3 linked regions of the Homo sapiens genome follow. The protein of the gene in region 1 purifies or fractionates together with the protein of each later gene. This does not show direct contact. Each region holds a gene or a part of one and is shown in the gene's direction. Other genes may lie near its edges.

Region 1 (7,000 bases):
CCTGTAGTCCCAGCTACTCGGGAGGCTGAGGCAGGAGAGTGGCGTGAACCTGGGAGGCTCCCACGCCCGGCTAATTTTTGTATTTTTAGTAGAGACAGGGTTTCACCATATCGGCCAGGCTGATCTCGAACTCCTGACCTCATGATCTGCCAGCCTCAGTCTCCCAAAGTGCTGGGATTACAGGCGTGAGCCACCGTGCCCAGCCGGAAGTAATTTCTTTCCTGATGCTATTGTCCTCCAGTAGTGCATATTTCTTTCTTTCTTTTTCATTTATTTATTTATTTATTTGGTGAGACAGAGTCTCACTCTGTGGCCCAGGCTGGAGTGCAGTGGCGTGATCTTGGCTCACTGCAACCTCTGTTGCCCAGGTTCAAGCGATTCTCCTGCCTCAGCCTCCCGAGTAGCTGGGATTACAGGCGCCCACCACTGCGCCTGGTTAATTTTTGTAGTTTTAGTAAAGATGGTGTTTCACCATGTTGGCCAGGCTGGTCTTAAACTCCTGATCTCATGATCCACCCACCTTGGCCTCCCAAAGTGCTGGGATTACAGGCGTGACCCACCACGCCCGGCTGCATATTTCTTTTATGTCACTTTGTACACTAGACTGTCACTTCAAATATTTACTATAATTGGGTGCTTTAAATTTTGTTGATATTTTTCACTTCTAATGTTTTTCCCACTAGATTAGGAGTGCCATGAGTATCTTTATCATTATTACTTAGCATATTACTTTGTACTTGTAGGTATTTAACAAATATTTTAGAGTAACAATACAGTTAACTGTGGTACCCCACACAGATAAAAGTACTTACTAAAAACCCAGCAAATCTTGTCATTGTTTTTTATAGTTGAACGCATGAGGAATGGGATTGATATCCTGGTTGGAACACCAGGTCGTATCAAAGACCACATACAGAATGGCAAACTAGATCTCACCAAACTTAAGCATGTTGTCCTGGATGAAGTGGACCAGATGTTGGATATGGGATTTGCTGATCAAGTGGAAGAGATTTTAAGTGTGGCATACAAGAAAGGTAATCCACAAATTCAAGAAGCTGATAAAAAAGACCAAAGGAAGGGTGGTAACTCTGTCTCCTGGGTTCAAGTGACTCTCATGCCTCAGCCACCCTAGTAACTGGGATTACAGGCACCCACCACCACGCCTGGCCTCGTATTTTTAGTAGAGATGGGGTTTTGCCATATTGCCCAGGCTGGTCTCAAACTCCCAGCCCCAGGTGATCCGACTGCCTCACCCTCCCAAAGTGCTGGGATTAGAGGCATGAGCCACTGCGCCTGGCCTGGTGACTAAGTAGTTTTCTAAGAGATTAATAAAGCCTTGGGAAATTGGAATGGGGCTCATTTTATCTAGAAACTTGGATTAAAAAAAAAAAGTCATTACTCTGGGATTAAAGCTGGTGAGGAAAAAAAAAGTCATGATTTATCATATTACCACAATGGGGAAAACTTGGAAAAGTAAAGAAAAATACCATCTTCTGTCATCTTGATGTGGTCTGCTTTTGGTGTATTCCTGATGTTTTGCATTTTATTGTATATATGTGTTGATTATACTCTGACTATACATATAAAAATTCAGCAAAAATACTGTATGAAGTGGTTGGCCATGACTTAATTCTACCATCTGCCTAGTTTGATTTTTATTCAATATAAATAGTTCTGTTTAGCCACTTTTATACAGATAGCTTCTCACCTCAATATCTGGAATTGTTTTTTGTTTTTTTTTTTGAGACAGGGTCTAAATCTGTCACCCAGGCTGGAGTGCAGTGGTGGGATCTTGGCTCATTGCAGCCTCCACCTTCCAGGTTGAAGCAATCCTCCGAGTAGCTGGGACTATAGATGTGCGCCACCATGCCCAGCTAATTTTTCTGTTTTTTGTAGAGCTGGGTTTCACCATGCTGGTCTTGAACTCTTGGACTCAAGTGATCTTCCCTCCCACTTTGGCCTCCCAGAATGCTGGGATTACAGATGTGCTCTACCGCGGCCGCCCTTTTTTTATTTTTAAGATAGGCCCTCACCCTGTCACTCAGGCTATAGTACAGTGGCACCATCATAGCTCACTGCATCCCTAAACTCCTGGGCCTCAGCTTCCTGAGTAGCTTAGGGCTACAGGCGTGCGCCACCATGCCTGGCTAATGTTTTTATTATTGATAGAGACAGGGTCTCACTGTGTTGCCCAGGCTTGTCTTGATTCCTGGCCTCAAGTGATCCTCCTGCCTCCACCTCTGAAAGCATTGGAATTACAGGCATGAGCCACTGTGCCTGGCCTGGAATTGGTTCTTTAGGATAGATTTCCAGAAGTGGAATTACTGAGCTTAAAAGTGTAAAAAATTCATGCTCCTCAATATACATTGTCAAATTCTCTCCAGAAGGGTTCTATCACACTTCTATTTGGAATGTTTGAGAATGTGATGTCACTCTTAAGTAGAATTGAACAAACAAAAATAGTAGCTGGACTCAATGATTGGACAAGAATTCTAAATTCATAAAATATTGAGAATAGAAATCTTAGAATAGATTTCGTTTGTAATTCAAAAGCCTAATGGTCAGAAAGCAAAATAACTTTAAAGTACTTTCACTATTTTAAGGATCTTTTAGATAAATTACCTAGCGGTATTTCTTTGCCCATTGGGAAACCTCTGTCTTCCAGTTTTGTGTCCTCAGTGCCCGACTTGGCCTCAGGTGGTTGCTGGTGAACATTGATGGACTGTGGAAGTATTAGGTTAGGTGGAATACTATGTAGGCTTGTTTGGATTATTCATACTGACTTTTTTTTTCCCCCTCCTCAAAGATTCTGAAGACAATCCCCAAACATTGCTTTTTTCTGCAACTTGCCCTCATTGGGTATTTAATGTTGCCAAGAAATACATGAAATCTACATATGAACAGGTGGACCTGATTGGTAAAAAGACTCAGAAAACGGCAATAACTGTGGAGGTAAATTATTTACTTAGTTGCCAGAATATAAAATTGTATATATTTTTTTCTTGTCTGTTAGTATTAAGACTGGCAAATGCTCTTTTTCCAGATAAATACTAAATCCATGTGAAAAGCCAAGGAAAAATATTTCTATTTGAGCTGTATATGATATCTGTGTTTTTATTTTTATTTTTTGAGATGGAGTCTCGCTCTGTCACCAGGCTGGAGTGCAGTGGCGCAATCTCCGTTCACTGCAACCTCCACCTCCCAGGTTCAAGTGATTCTCCTGCCTCAGCCTCCTGAGTGGCTGGGACTACAGGCATGCGCTACCACGCCCAGCTAATTTTTGTATTTTTAGTAGAGACAGGGTTTCACCATGTTGGCCAGGATAGTCTCAATCTCTTGACCTCGTGATCTGCCCATCTCGGCCTCCCAAAGTGCTGGGATTACAGGTGTGAGCCACCACGCCCGGCCCGATATCTGTGTTTTTAAAATTTCATCATCTATGGCCTCATTTCATTTCAGAATGATTTGGAACTTAAATCTATCTGAGTTATGTAAACATAAATCACACTTAAAATTTAAACATTAGAGGGCAGCAGAGAAATCTAGTGCTTTGTGTTTAAGCTTAAAAGTGTTGAAGTTTAAAATTTCACCTTTGATTCTGATAATCTAGATGAATTAATTTCACTGAGGAACAGACCTGTATATTAATCTACTACAGATTGGGTTTTTAAGTAAATGAAAAGGCAAAACATACAGAAATTTGTTGGTTATTTGGTTTCCTGTAGAAAGCTAGGGAGTGGCATTTCCTTTCCTGCATTTTCCTGGTTGTCAGAAAATAAAGAAGTTAGATGCTCTTTAGAGAAAGGGGAGAGGCATGGGGAGATGGGCAGATCATGTTGCTTTCTGCTTTACTGGCTTATTTAGGTTTTTTTCTGTCAGTGGTGGCTGCAGACAGCTCTTATCAGGCTTGAGTAGTTGTTTCCAGGAGCAAGACATTAGAACATTAGTGTTGTGCTCACTGATCATTGTGTTGTGATTTTAGTTTCCAGCAAAGCTTTACTAAATAGATGTTTTTTTTCTTCTTACATAAGCATCTGGCTATTAAGTGCCACTGGACTCAGAGGGCAGCAGTTATTGGGGATGTCATCCGAGTATATAGTGGTCATCAAGGACGCACTATCATCTTTTGTGAAACCAAGAAAGAAGCCCAGGAGCTGTCCCAGAATTCAGCTATAAAGCAGGTTGGTCCTTCCCCTTATGCCAGCAAAACTGGGGATATCAACAAATCTTCACCTTGGGCATATCTGCTCTTGGTCTGATTTTCATTCATTCAGTGAATACCAGTTTAGTTTAGTTTAGAAATGAGAGGAAGCTACTTTTTTTTTTTTTTTTTTAATTGAGGCAGAGTCTCATTCTGTTACCCAGGCTGGAGTGCAGTGGTGTGATCTGGGCTCTCTGCCTCCTGAGTTCAAGTGATTCTCCCACCTCAGTCTCCCGAGTAGCTGGGATTACAAGTGAGCACCACCATTCCTGGTTAATTTTGTTTTTTCTTTATTTTTTTGAGAGGGGGTCTCGCTTCTTCGCCCAGGCTGGACTGCAATGGTGTGATCTTGGCTCACTGAAACCTCCGCTTCTTGGGTTCAAGCAGTTCTCCTGCCTCAGCCTCCCAAGTAGCTGCGATTACAGGCACGTGCCAGCATGCCCAGCTAATTTTTGTATTTTTAGTAGAGATGGGGTTTCACCGTGTTGGCCGGGTTGGTCTCGAACTCCTGACCTCAAGTGATCCACCTGCCTCGGCCACTCAGAATGCTGGGATTATAGGCATGAGCCACTGCGCCCAGCCTAATTTTTTTTTTTTTTTTTTTTTTTTTTTTGGAGACAGGGTCTCACTCCCTTTGCCCAGGCTGAAGTGAAGTGCATTGGCGTGGTCTCGGATCACTGTAGCCTCAACCTCCAGGTAGCATGCACCACCATACCTGGCTTTTTTTTTCTGGATGGTGTTTTATTATTGATATAATTCATGTGCCACATATTATCATTTTAAAGTGTACAGTTCAGTGGCTTTTAGCATAATCATGAGGTTGTGCCACAGTCACCACTATCTAATTGGGAAGACTTTTTTTATCTTCAACTTTTAGGTTCAGGGGTACATGTGAGGATGTACAGGTTTGTTACATAGCTAAATGTATGCCAAGGTGGTTTGCTGCACAGATCATCCCATAACCTAGGTATTAAGCCCAGCATTTATTAGCAGGATTAGCTATTCTCCTACCCACCCCCAACTAATTTTATTTTTTTAAATTTTTTTTCTATTTTTAGTAGAGACCGAGTCTTGCCATATTGCCCAGGCTGGTCTCAAACCCCAGCCTCAAGCAGTCTGCCTGTCTGGGCCTCCCAAAGTGCATGAGCTACTGCACCTGGCCTCACTTCTTTCTAATGATCAGAGGGTACATGTTAGAACTCACTTAATCTGTCATGGCATCTCATCACACAAATGAGGAAAGGGTGGCTCAGACCTAAGGTTACACTGATAAAATAGGTTTGATCACTCTTGTCTCATTCTCAACTTCAATAAGTAAAGTTGGATACAGTTGGAATTGATAACTGAGGATTTGGAAATAATATTGAGGCTTATCCATTCAAGACACATTTTCCCCTTTGTAATGTTTTCAACAGGCATGTCACCAAAATATGAATGTCTTTTACAGGCCTAACTGATGAAGAGAAAAAGTACTTGTATTGTTGGAACTGGTGTTCTTACATCCGTTTATTTATTGGCAGGATGCTCAGTCCTTGCATGGAGACATTCCACAGAAGCAAAGGGAAATCACCCTGAAAGGTTTTAGAAATGGTAGTTTTGGAGTTTTGGTGGCAACCAATGTTGCTGCACGTGGGTTAGACATCCCTGAGGTTGATTTGGTTATACAAAGCTCTCCACCAAAGGTATGTGCTTTATGCTTAGATTTTATTTTGTTTTGTTTTTTTTGGGTATTAAAACAAATTGGAAATTGTATTATTTACTTTCATGTCATTAGTATATAGCTATCTTTTGAGTGCTGGGATGCTAAGGGTGATTTTGAGAATGAACCTGTTATCAGACACCCCCCTCAGAACTGACACTTGAGTAGAAGTGCAGTCAGCAGACAGAGGTTCAAAAGGTGACTTGGGGATATAGTGTGATTTTTGAGCCAAACCTTGAAGATGGGTGGAAGGACTGAGATGGGATAGGGGTAAGTAAGGTAGATAAATGCATGAGCCTAGAGGACAGGGGAGAGAAAGGGCCTGTAATTAACCTCTGTGGTTAGAGATGCTTAGGTTTGTGAGTTATAGGAACCTCTCAAGGAGGACCCTGAATCATAGTTTACTTGATGTGGATAGTTCTTCACGTAAATAAAGGTTGTTCCAAAGGTATTCCAATCACTTCCAACATGAGGACCCCAAAATCTCACCCAAATTGGCAAATCCCCCATGGTTAAAGGCTGCTTACAACAATGGGGAAAAATAACTGAAGACTATGAATTCACCAATTCTTAAAAAGGAAGTCCCATGAGTGTGTGGTATAAACATTGTTTCACGAGCCTTTAGACTTTTTGATATGGTAGCCACTAGCTGTGTTGAGCACTTGAAATGTAGGTGGTCTGAATTGATCTGTGTACTGCAAGTGTAAAATACATACTGCCTAACTTTTTATTATGCGGTCTGGATTTTGAAGACTTACGAAAAAATACAAAATATTGCATTGGTACCCTGGTTTGTATAGATAGTATATTGAAATGATAAGACTTGGATATTCTGACAGGCGTGGTGGCTCATGTCTGTAATCCCAGCACCTTGGGCGGCTGAGGCAAACGAATCACTTAAGGTCAGGAGTTCGAGACCAGCCTGGCCAATATGGTGAAACTCTGTGAAACCCTGTCTATACTAAAAATACAAAAATTAGCCAGGCCTGGTGTCAGGTGCCTGTTGTCCCAGCTACTTGGGAGGCTGAGACAGCAAGATCACTTGAACCCGGTAGGCGGAGGTTGCAGTGAGCTGAGATCATGCCACTGCACTCCAGCCT
Region 2 (5,366 bases), on another chromosome or scaffold:
CGTTCTTATAGACGTCTTGAGCTGCAAGCCTGTTATGTGTATCGTTAGGTGCTTTGGTTAGGTGTTTTTTAACTTCAGAAGTTTAACGTCATTTCAAAGGCCTCCTTCTCATAATGGAGTATTTCCTCCATATGCACATCCTGAGCAAAGGTAACCCCAATTAAAGTAGTAGCTCAGAGTTTTAAAAGTTTTAAAGTGGCATACAACAGTAGAATTGGGGCTCATCAATTATCAATTCTTTCACCCTTCAAATAATTCTTTTCTTTATTCAATGCCTGTAGCTATTGCATTAATGACCACAGCGGTCATCTCTACCTGCGACCATGGTATAGTAGCCAAGATCAAGAGAGTGATCATGGAGAGAGACACTTACCCTCGGAAGTGGGGTTTAGGTCCAAAGGTAAGTGGTACTGGGTTGCGTGCCCTGCCAGGTTCTTTTTTTTTTTTTTTTTTTTTTAAATTTATTTTTTTATTGATAATTCTTGGGTGTTTCTCACAGAGGGGGATTTGGCAGGGTCATGGGACAATAGTGGAGGGAAGGTCAGCAGATAAACAAGTGAACAAAGGTCTCTGGTTTTCCTAGGCAGAGGACCCTGCGGCCTTCCGCAGTGTCTGTGTCCCTGATTACTTGAGATTAGGGAGTGGTGATGACTCTTAAGGAGCATGCTGCCTTCAAGCATCTGTTTAACAAAGCACATCTTGCACCGCCCTTAATCCATTTAACCCTGAGTGGACACAGCACATGTTTCAGAGAGCACAGGGTTGGGGGTAAGGTCACAGATCAACAGGATCCCAAGGCAGAAGAGTTTTTCTTAGTGCAGAACAAAATGAAAAGTCTCCCATGTCTACTTCTCTCCACACAGACACGGCAACCATCCGATTTCTCAATCTTTTCCCCACCTTTCCCGCCTTTCTATTCCACAAAACCGCCATTGCCATCCTGGCCCGTTCTCAATGAGCTGTTGGGCACACCTCCCAGACGGGGTGGCGGCCGGGCAGAGGGGCTCCTCACTTCCCAGTAGGGGCGGCCGGGCAGAGGCGCCCCTCACCTCCCGGACGGGGCGGCTGGCCGGGCGGGGGGGCTGACCCCCCCCCACCTCCCTCCCGGATGGGGCGGCTCCTGCCAGGTTCTTTTGTTTGGCATTGTTGAATACTTGGGCAGCTCTTGGTGTGTTTCACCACCACAGCCTTGTATTGTGCTGGGCTCTGGGTTGTCGATGAGTGGAAACAGGCCCTGTCTTGGGCCTTAGAGATTTCAGTCTAATGAGGGGAAACAGTTGGGCATTACTCACGTAATCACACAGTGGAATGGCGAATTTCATGCACGTTAGTGGCTACCAAGGAGTGCAGAGAGGTGTCTGTCACCTGGAGTGTCCACAGTGGTCAAGGAGTCTGGTCAAGGGATTGTCTGTTAAGCCACACCGGTGTGAAGAGTGGGTTAGGTGTTGGTGAAGTGAAGAGGGGAGGGGAGAGTTCAGGGCATTGGGAGCAAGCAGCATGTGCAAAGGCAAAAAAGTAGAGTGGCTGCGGTGGGGACGTTATGTCTGCAGAGGCTCTCACTAATAAGCTTTGTGATCTTCAACAAGTCCTGTGTGTGTTGGAGTTAGTGGGCAAATTCTGAATGCTCTGGAGAGGAGTTTGAGGCCCTGCTGAGAATACACCAGGGAGGAACCTTGTTCTATTCTTTGTAGTCACCATGCCCGCTTCCAGCATTGACACCATTCTAATGTTGACACCTTGATGTTCCACCAGGCAAGTCAGAAGAAGCTGATGATCAAGCAGGGCCTTCTGGACAAGCATGGGAAGCCCACAGACAGCACACCTGCCACCTGGAAGCAGGAGTATGTTGACTACAGGTGAGGGCAGGATGTTTCAGAGCCGGGGTGGGTAGAGACGGCACACTTGCTGCCTTGATGCAGGAGTATGTCAACAACAGGTGAGGATGGGAAGGTAGAGCCCACTTGCCATCTGGACGCAGGAGTACATGGACAACAGGTGAGGAACAGGTGAGCATGGAGGTTGTAGAGCCCAGGGGAGGGGGAGTCACTTGGTTTGGGGCAAACTTGCTAAATGCAGGACCACAGGAACCAGCTCTTCAGCTCCCGTGAGATTTTGGCTGCCCAGGCCAGTTAGGGGTGTGGGCCTGCACGGCAGACAGTTATCCCTTTCTAGTCTGGCTCGTGGGACTCTAGAGGGAGTCAGTCTGCAACAGTAAGTGGTGAGTTCTTCTGTCCAGCGTCAGTATTTTGATGGTGGCTTTAGACTTGCCAGATAACACTACATAACATCAGTACTGCCCTGGAAAGCCATTCAGTGAATTTGACCTATTGCTACCTCTTTTTCAGTGAGTCTGCCAAAAAAGAGGTGGTTGCTGAAGTGGTAAAAGCCCCGCAGGTAGTTGCCGAAGCAGCAAAAACTGCGAAGGTGAGTGGCATGCTGTCCTCAGTTTGGAATGTGCTTAGGGAGATAATCCTAAGAGGCACTGGCATTCGTCTTACTTTGTGACTGTCCGCAGTCCAGCCATATACGCTAGCATCAGAGGTGCAGCGCATACACAGGTAATGCTGCCTCATACCCTGGGGTGCTTGTTTGGGCTCTGCAGGCTCCTCTGATTTGTATTCTCTGTCCTATCTGCTGGGAGGAGGAATGTGGGCTCAGGAATCAGATGGGCCTCGACTCCTACCTCAGCTATGGCAGCAACACAGTGATGGAATGGGTGGTGGTGTGTGTGTCAATTCTGGCCCCCGCCCTGGGTCAAATGGTAGGACAGATGTGTTGAAATCAGAGGCCATGGCTGTTGGACATTCGAGGCCATACAAAATTCAGCAGAGAGCAGAATTGCATCTTAACCTGGCACCACCCAGTGTTGAAAGAGTCAGTCAAGCATGGGTTGGCAACTCCACCCCATGGAGCTGCTGGCATTAGAGCACAGAATGACAGGTCTGCACTCAGAAACCGGGGGCGGTACTGAGTATCCTGCACAGGCTGTGTGGGAGGAGCTTCTGACTTGTCAGATGTGAATTCCTGCTTTGCCTGCTTTCTGTGAGAGGTCCTTGCAGTCATGAGAGAAACAGCTCCTCCGGGCCTTTCCACCCCAAGCCCCGTGCTGCTGCTGTGCTCCTTCTCTTGTGCCTGCCTCAAGGCTTCTTGGATTTGGGGGATGAGACTGTCTTCAAATCCTCAGTAAACTAAGGCCCTGTCCGGGTTTGTAGTCAGAAAACGTCCTGTTAGATTCAGTTGGGATCTTTCTTGGTGCCTTGCTACCTTTTGACTCACTGAACCTTTCTTGTCCATTATTGCCCAAGATCTAACACTTAACCAATTGCTTTCATCTCAGCGGAAGCGAGAGAGTGAGAGTGAAAGTGACGAGACTCCTCCAGCAGCTCCTCAGTTGATCAAGAAGGAAAAGAAGAAGAGTAAGAAGGACAAGAAGGCCAAAGCTGGTCTGGAGAGCGGGGCCGAGCCTGGAGATGGGGTGTGTGGAAACACGTTCAGGTTCCTTGGGCTGGCTTAGTCCCTGCGTGGGGAAAGAATTACCCAGGTGGTACCAGCTTTGTTACTCTTCTTGGAGGAGCTGTGGCCTGGGGGTGGGATGCCACCGAGTGCCTTTAGTGCTTCCCCATGTTCCTGGAGTGCTTTTGCCCTCCCTGTGGAATGGACAGATAGAGGCACCCGACCTCTACCACTTATACTTAGAGCTCTATTGATGGTGGGTGGAGAGGATGTGTAGGATGGTGATCTGAATGTTTCCACTTCCAAAAGTAGACCACTAGGGTGTCACTGAAAGGTTTACAGAACTTTGTGTCACATGCAGCATTTAACCCAAAATATCCTTACAGGTCCTGAAAAAGGCTTGCTTGACTGTGGACCTTTACCAGATTTCCTTCTGGGAGAGTCATAGCTTTGTTAGTGGATGGTATCTGTGAGCTTTCATTCTCTTTCTTTCTAGGACAGTGATACCACCAAGAAGAAGAAGAAGAAGAAGAAAGCAAAAGAGGTAGAATTGGTTTCTGAGTAGTGAAGGCCACTTGAAGCTGGAGGAGAAACTAAAGCCTTATTGAGAAAACATGTTATAGATCCTTTTGTTGCTGAGAGAGTGGAACATAGGTCCTAGACAGGGTGAAGAGTTCTGGCACATTTTAGCTGCTACTTTGAGACCTCGGTGATGTTACCTGGTGTGGTCATCCCATCTTGTCCTGTTTTAAGGATATGGGTGGTGAAAGATGAAAGAGGCAGAGTTTATCCCAATGACTTCTCTGTTTGAGTTGGGAAGCCTCACCTTCAGACCCAGTAACTGTCCGCAGCTGTCTGCTAGTGGTTGTCTTAACATCGTAGTCCTAGTTTGCATTTTTTAAATCCCCTCTGTTTAAAAGGTTTGTAAAACAAAAACAAAAAACTAAGTCTGCTCAGTGAAATGCTGTAGAACCCTAAATAAGTGGTAGAAGAGTGTCACTGAATTTTGTCTCTGAATTCAGTATAACTGAGTTTTGTCCATGCTGGTGTCTGGGTTATAGGCCTGATGGGCCTGGTAGTTTTCCATCTTGTTCTGGCCTAGAGGTCAGTCCTTTGCACTTCCTCAAAGCTTGTGTACAGTGCTCACCTAAATCCATCTGACTACTTGTTCCTGTGCCCTCTTGTTTTAGGCCTCGTTTACTTTTAAAAAATGAAATTGTTCATTGCTGGGAGAAGAATGTTGTAATTTTTACTTATTAAAGTCAACTTGTTAAGTTTTTTATGTATTCCTGTTGGGTTTTCTTGTTGATCTCATGCTAGCAGAGCAAAAATTGTAAAATATTTTGATTAAAAATCTAGGGACCTTTATGTCCTATTTGAAATGTGATGCTTTTATGTTTGTTTTCTGGTTTTTACATTTTTGTTCTGTATCTTACACAATCCACCTTGGGCCCTGTCATCTGATGTGAGATCAAGTACTCAGAGGCAGTGATTACCACAAAACCACTGATCTCTAGAAGAACAGAGAAGGAGAGGGTTAATGTATTTATACATAGTGGGCCTGGCAGGAGCGGGGGGCAGGGTGAGTCGGGAGAACGAAGCTGAGGGTGGGGACATGCAGGAATCTGAAGGCCTTGGTGACAGATTAGTGGAAGAAAGGTCTAGGGTTGCTTCCGATTTGGTATTAAGAACCAAGAAAGAGGCCGGGTGCAATGGCTCACACCTATAATCCCAGTGCTTTGGGAGGCTGAGGCGGGCAGATCACCCGAGGTCAGGAGTCTGAGACCAGCCTGGGCCAACATGGCAAAACCCATCTCTACTACAAATACAAAAATTAGCCAGGTGTGGTGGCGTGTGCCTGTAATCCCAGCTACTCGGGAGGCTGAGGCAGGAGAATCCCCTGGAACCTGGGA
Region 3 (7,040 bases), on another chromosome or scaffold:
CTGAAGCTGCTCCCTGAGACCTGGCCTTCGTCTCATATATGCAGTTCTCTTCAGATGGAAGAGAGCAGGTGCCATGGGTCCTGGACTGGGTGAAGCAGGTCATTTGGTTCTGGTGTTCAGGCCACACTAAGAACCAAGTATTCCCAGTGTACCTAGTGAAAACAGGCTATAAGTAGCCTAAAAACGATTTTTTAAAAGATTTTTAAAAATTGTTTTTAGTTGTTGTTTTGCCCTTGCTAGGAATAAAACAGGACCGAGAAGCCCTAGAGCTCGTAGGAACCCCATTCAGCAGTATCACATTGCACAGTTCCATTTCCTGGCTCTCAGTAGCCCTCTGTGATGGTGCTTTTGGGATCCAGCACTGTCACATCTGGGTATTTACCTAAAAAGTTTGAAATTTGTGTGTCAAGAGATATCTGCACCCTCATGTTTATTGCAACAGTATTCACAATAGCAAAGATGTGGGATCAACCTAAATGTCCATTAATGGATGAATGGAAAAAGAAAATGTGGTATATAGACACAATGGAATATGTTCAGCTTTTAAAAAGGAAGAAATTATGTCATTTGCAACAACATGGATAGAATTGGAGAACATTATGCTAAGTGAAATATGCCAAACATAGACAAATCCCACATGTTCTCATTTATATGTGAGATATAAAACAATTGAACTCCCAGAAGCAGAGAGTACAGTGGTGGGTACAGAGGCTGGGGGTAGGTGGAATGGGAAAATGATAGTCAAAGGGTACAAAGTCTCAGTCAGATAAAAAGGATAAGTTTGATTTTTTTGGACATCTACTGCACAGTGTGGTGAATATAGCTAACAGTTGAGTACTGCACATTTTGATATTGCTCTGAGAGTATATTTCAGGTGTTGTCATCACAGAAAATGTTAAATAATTTATCATTATGTTACAAAAAATAATAAAATTTCAAATGTAATTGTCCACTTTGGAAGAAATTCATAAATTTCAGAATTTATGCCAATAATTCACATTTTAATGGCTCAGAAGAAAAGTAACTGGTCTTTTGTTAAAACTGTTGAATATACAAAGAACTTGAAGTTCATGAGCCCACTCCGTGAAAATGGGAATATCTGGAAAAAGGTCTGGCATGGATTGGTCCTTGGAGCCTACAAGTGAGTGAGCCTGGCCTTTAGCGCCCCACGCGCATGTGTGAGGTGGGACAGTGGGCCCCGGTTGATGGACACAGGCTGTGGGCACATGCACTGCCCTCAGCATAGCCGCCTTAGCACTTCAGGACTTAAAAGGACCTCAGAGTCACTGAATCAAAGCTCCCTGAGAGTCAAATTCCTCTGTGAATTCCTTTCTTGCAGGGAGGGTGGGGAGAACTGTCCAAACCTCAGTCTTTTGAGGGTGAGTTTAATTTTTGAAAACAGCAAAACTTCAGACAAAGCCAAGTCTAGTGAAGAAGGTCAACAACCAGGATGAACACATTAAAATAAGGTGGGGCCAAAAGATGACAAAACTGGTTTGCTTCTCTGACCCACAAAATGGTTCTGAGAGGTAATTCCAGAAGCACCTAGAGTAACACCCTCCTCCCACTGCTGCTGCCGGCACAACCTCTCCAAGGGTGGATAGAGAGCTCATATTAACATCTTTAAGGCTGGGCACAGTGGCTCACGCATGTAATCCTAGCACTTTGGGAGGCTGAGGCAGGCGGGTCACCTGAGGTCGGGAGTTCGAGACCAGCCTGACCAACATGGAGAAACCCCATCTCTACTAAAAACACAAAAGTAATCTGGCGTGGTGGTGCATGCCTGTAATCCCAGCTACTCGGGAGGCTGAGGCAGGAGAATCGCTTGAACCCGGGAGGCAGAGGTTGTGGTGGGCCGAGTTCACGCCATTGCACTCCAGCCTGGGCAACAAGAGCAAAACTCTGTCTCAAAAAAAAAAAAAAAAAAATCTTTAAAAATGGACATCATCTTTGGCTCAGAAATGCAATTTTAGGAATTTATCATAAGGAAAGTATTGAGATGATGCATAAAGATTGAACCAATAGGAAATTTGATGCAGTGTTGGTATCACACAGGATATCGATAGGATACTGTGCAGTCATGAGAAATGATGCTACCGAAATGTTTCTGTTGATACTGCACACATTCAATGAAAAGAGCACACAACAGATGAACGGACAAAAAACCATGGTATATGTATACAATGGAATACTACTCGGCCGTAAAAAAAGAATGAAATCCTGTCATTTATGGCCATGTGGATGAAACTGGGCGAATGTGAAGTGAAATGAGCAGGGCACAGAAAGTTAAACACCACTTGTTCTTGCTCATGTGTGGAAGCTAAAAAGGTTGATCTTACAGAAGTAAAAAGTAGAACAGAGGATATTAGAGGTTGGGAAGGGTAGGGGGAAGAGAGGGATAGGGAGAAATTTATTAAAGGATACAAAATTATAGCTAGATATGAGGAATAAGTTCTATTGCTCTATACCACTGTAGAAAGACTATAGTTAACAGTAATATGTTCTATAGTTTCAAGCAGCTAGAAGGAGAATATTGTATGAACCCAACAAAAAGAAATGATAAATGTTTGAGATGATTGATGTACTAATTACCTTGATCTGATCACTATGCATTATGTGTATTGCAACATTGTTACCCACCCCATGAATGTGTACAATTATTATTTATCATTGAAAAAAAAAAAAGCAGGTTACCTACAGTGTTAAGACATGATCCAGGCTACAGTTTGTAGACATGGGGAGAGGATACTAAGTGATATGGAGGCTGGGGGCAGAGGCGCATGCCTGTAATCCCAATACTTTGGGAGGCTGGGGCAGGTGGATCACTTGAGGCTAGGAGTTCAAGACCAGCCTGGCCAACATGGTGCAACCCTGTCTCTACTAAAAGTACAAACATTAGCTGGGTGTGGTGGCTCATGCCTGTAATCCCAACTACTCAGGAGGCTGAGGTGCAAGAATTGCTTGAACCCAGGAAGTGGAGGTTGCAGTGAGTCAAGATCACACCACTGCACTCCAGCCTGGGTGACAGAGTAAGACTCCATCTCAAAAAAAAAGAGAGAAAAAAAACAAGTGATATGGAAAGACGTGCGCCAAGATGTGAATGGTGAGCAGGATTGTGGATACTTTTTACATTCTTTTTGCTTGTCTATATATTCTGACTTTTCTGTAACAAAAAACTATTTTTATAACAAAAAATAATACAGGGAGAGAGAGAGAAGAGAGAGAGAGAGAGAGATTTTGCTATCCTTAAAGAGAAGCTATGAGGTCCCTGTACAGTTTGCTGGAGCTGCTGTAGTAAAGTACTACCAACTGAGTGGCTTCATCAACAGGAGTGTATTGTCTCACAGTTCTGGAGGCTAGAAGTTCAAGATCAAGGTGCTGGCAGGGCTGGTTCCTTCTGAAGGCTGTGAGGGAGAATCTGTCCCAGGCCCCTCTCCTCACTTCGAGTGCTTTGCTGGCAATCTTTGGTGTTCCTTGGCTGCTGCGGCATCACTCCAGCCCCTACCACCATCTTCACGTGGCGTTCTCCCTGTGTGGGTCTGTGTTCCAGTTTCCTCTTTTTATAAGGATACCAGTTATATTGGATCAGGGACCTACCCTACTCCAGTATGACCTCATCTTAACTAATTACATCTGTACTAATCCTATTTTTAAATAAGGCCACATTCTATAAGGCCCCATTCTGAGATACTGGGGGTTAGGACTTCAACATATGAATTTGGGGGAAGAGCACAATTCGACCTATAACAGTATCCAGGGAGATGGCCACACAGCTCCCACCCCACTGAAGTTAGCGCCTACCTCCCATCAAAACCCACCTGGCTGTTGTCCAGCATGAGCATGGGCCAGGATCAGGAGCTATGGGGTGGCATCACTGACCTTCTCCCTGCAGCACTCCAGGTCCAAAGAGATTATGATGATAACTGAGACTTGAGCACCACATCCTCCCTGCTTCGGGATGCCCGGGCCAGGGCTGCAGATCTGCATGGGCACTCACATTAGCACCTCTGATCTAGGAAGCCTGATTTAAAGATTTGAAAGGAAGGAGTAATCTAAAGAAAAAGAAAGGACGCATGCCGACTTTTGCTTGGATATAGGATTTGTGATTAAAAAGCAACAATAGAAAAGCAAGAGAGAAGAAAGAAAAAAGTATTATGAATATTACACATTAAATTCCACATATGGATGTTTATAGCAGTTTTATTCATAGTTGCCAAAAACTGGAAACAATCAAGATGTCCTTCAATAAGTGAACGGACAAACTGTGGTGCATCCATGCGATGGGACATTATTCAGCAATAAAAAGGAGCTACGAAGCTCATTTATGAAAAGCCATATCGTTCACAAAAAGAGGGGCCGGGTGCAGTGGCTCACACCTGTAATCCCAGCAGTTTGGGAGGCCAAGGTGGGTGGATCACCCGAGGTCAGGAGTTCGAGACCAGCCTGGCCAACATGGTGAAACCCCGTCTCTACTAAAAATACAAAAATTAGCTGGGTGTGGTGGTGCAGGCCTGCAGTCCCAGCTACTTGGGAGGCTGAGGCAGTAGAATCACTTGAACCCAGGAGGCAGAGGTTGCAGTGAGCCCAGATCGTGCCACTGCACTCCAGCCTGGGCGACAGAGTAAGACTCAGTCAAAAAAAAAAAAAAAAAAAGACATAGAGGAGCTTCAAATATACATTGCTAAGTGAAAAAGCCAATCTGAAAAGGTGACATATTGTATGATCCCAACTGCTATATGGCAAAACTGTAGCGATGGTAAAAAGATTGGTGGTTGCCAGGGGGCTGGTGGGGGTGGGGGGAGGTGAATAGGTGGGGCACAGAGGATTTGTAGGGCTGTGGAACTATTTTATATGATACTCTAATGGTGGATAAATGCCATTAGGCATTTGTTGAAACCCACAGAATGTACCACACAGAGTGAACCCTTATGTAAACCATGGACTTCAGTTAATGATAAGCTATCAATATTTGTTCATCAGCTATAACAAATGTACCATACCAATGCAAGATGTTAATGATTGGGGAAACCGTATTTAGGGGAGGGAAGAATATGGGAACTCTGTGTACTACCTGCCCAAGTTTTCTGTAAACCTCACAAGACTATTAACTAAAAAAGAATCACACCTCCAAAATATATTCTGAATAAAGAAACTTAAAGGAAATCATGCACTTAGTCAGCTACCCTAAAGGAGCTCTTGGCAGATAAAAGTTTGGGAAACCGCCAAGAGCTAGCTCGTTTTCAAAGGCAGCTGAGAAGACACAGATGCCCCAAGTGTGACCCAGCGGGATGCCCCAGGATGAAAACAGCCCTGCCTGCTCATGCCCATCTCAGACTCAGCAGAGCCCTTCCAATCTCACTCAGCAGTGTCGGGCTTGGGGGAGGGGAGGAAGACCCAAATTCTTACTCAAAGAAATAACAGTTTGGAACATGCACAAGAGTGTCAACAAGTTATGTAGATCTTATCAGCATGGCATTTTTGGTGCCTCCCAGCTATACAGCAAGGCTCCACCAGCCTGTTCACACCCTGCGGCTTCCCACGCACCCCGAGCCTATCAACACCTCGGGAGGCTCTGCCCGGCAGGCCTGCCTCCCCAGAACATGACCAGCCCAAACTTTCTCTCTTTCCTCATCCTCTCAGGATCCCATCTTACCATCCATCCCCTCAGTCTGCATGAGGACCTACTGTCCATTCCTCTGCTGACATTCTGTACCTTGACTGGGGCTAAGTGTCTATCAATTTGAACAATACCTTTATGCTTACTTTGGAAAGAATACTCAAGGTGGAAAATTTGGATGTCACACCTGAGAGAAGAGAATGTGTAGTTTCAGTAACGTGAGAAATTATGCAATGTCACCATGGAAGTATTTTAAGCTTATATGAGGTGTTGCCATGTTTGCAGATAAAACATCACAATTTTGCAAAACTGTGGAGAAGGGATAAGGCAGGAGACTTAAAGCCCTTCTAGTTCCGGTTATGTATATACACTGCTGCCTGATCATGCAGACTTTCTAGTGTACTTTTGTTAAACAATGCAAAAAAAAATTATGTAGACTAATGAAAATGAGTCTTTCTATCTCAGCTTTCTTTCAGTTACTTGTTCATTACACTAGAGTCAGTGAATGGCTCTCTCTGTTTGTTTTCATTTTTAGGCAGCCTTAAGTGCCTTGAAACAATTTTCTGAACAAGGACTGGATCCAATCGATGGAGCAATGAATATCGAAAAAGGTTCTCTTGAAAAGTGAGTAAATCCCCTGTCAGTATTCTTACACTTTTAATTGTAACTGTACAAAAGATAAGACATAGATAATAATGTTTTAAAAAGTCGACAATAGTATCTACATCTTACACAATTATTAATAATACAATTAAATGTAAAGAAATGAAAACCAGTATATATGGCCATATACATCTCCTGTAATATTTCTGTGAAAGTTTTAACCTACTAATTGGTCACTGATTTTGCATTTCATTGCTTTGTTGGAAATATTTGTGCATTGTCCTGACTGTAGAGACTTGTAAAACTTACAAAACATTGTTTTTCACTTCATACTGTAGAGCATTGTCTGGCTAAGCCATTTTCAGCGGTGAAAGTTTTCACTCACATTCCTGCTAAGTTGTGGGCAAAGCGGAGAGAAAAGAAAAAGAAGTTGAGAGGAGGCGCCCCTCCCCTCGGCTGCATTCGGTTTTCCGTGTTGTTTTCTATGAAACACCAGCACACATTGCCACAAAGTGTGGCTCCCAAGGGCTACACGGGCAAAAGATGCAGCTGTCGTAATTATTTCTGAAATCCAGCTCATAGCTTTGCTTTAATGAGATGTGAACAGAAGGTCTCACCAAAGAGACTGAATTTGGGGTCTCTCCAGAGACTCAATTTATACTAAAAAAAAAAAAAAAATGGAAAGGGGTTATATTTATATAGTAGAATTCAACCTCTTTCCAAGCAGTAATAATAGCAGGTAGGATCTCAGAACACATGCAGGAGATAACATTTTTAGGTTTAAAAGAAAATAAAAATAGTCAACCCAGGAAGTAAAAAC

The links. The genes of interacting proteins can lie anywhere in the genome.
Region 2: the proteins of DDX21 (region 1) and DKC1 purify together in Homo sapiens (co-immunoprecipitation; 3 studies listed by BioGRID and IntAct, with this or other methods). This does not show direct contact.
Region 3: the proteins of DDX21 (region 1) and STAU2 purify together in Homo sapiens (affinity purification with mass spectrometry; 2 studies listed by BioGRID and IntAct, with this or other methods). This does not show direct contact.

What each region holds. Positions count from the first base shown.
Region 1 is NC_000010.11:68,966,170-68,973,169, forward strand, and holds part of DDX21 (nucleolar RNA helicase 2), read left to right. Parts: intron 1-848; coding exon 849-1,034; intron 1,035-2,806; coding exon 2,807-2,952; intron 2,953-4,031; coding exon 4,032-4,181; intron 4,182-5,721; coding exon 5,722-5,883; intron 5,884-7,000.
Region 2 is NC_000023.11:154,772,850-154,778,215, forward strand, and holds the end of DKC1 (H/ACA ribonucleoprotein complex subunit DKC1), read left to right. Parts: intron 1-281; coding exon 282-400; intron 401-1,752; coding exon 1,753-1,856; coding exon of another isoform or gene 1,857-1,860; exon of another isoform or gene 1,861-2,345; coding exon 2,346-2,424; intron 2,425-3,337; coding exon 3,338-3,475; intron 3,476-3,949; coding exon 3,950-4,018; 3' UTR 4,019-4,840; downstream 4,841-5,366.
Region 3 is NC_000008.11:73,421,815-73,428,854, reverse strand, and holds part of STAU2 (double-stranded RNA-binding protein Staufen homolog 2), read left to right. Parts: intron 1-6,152; coding exon 6,153-6,241; intron 6,242-7,040. UniProt on the Homo sapiens protein: RNA-binding protein required for the microtubule-dependent transport of neuronal RNA from the cell body to the dendrite.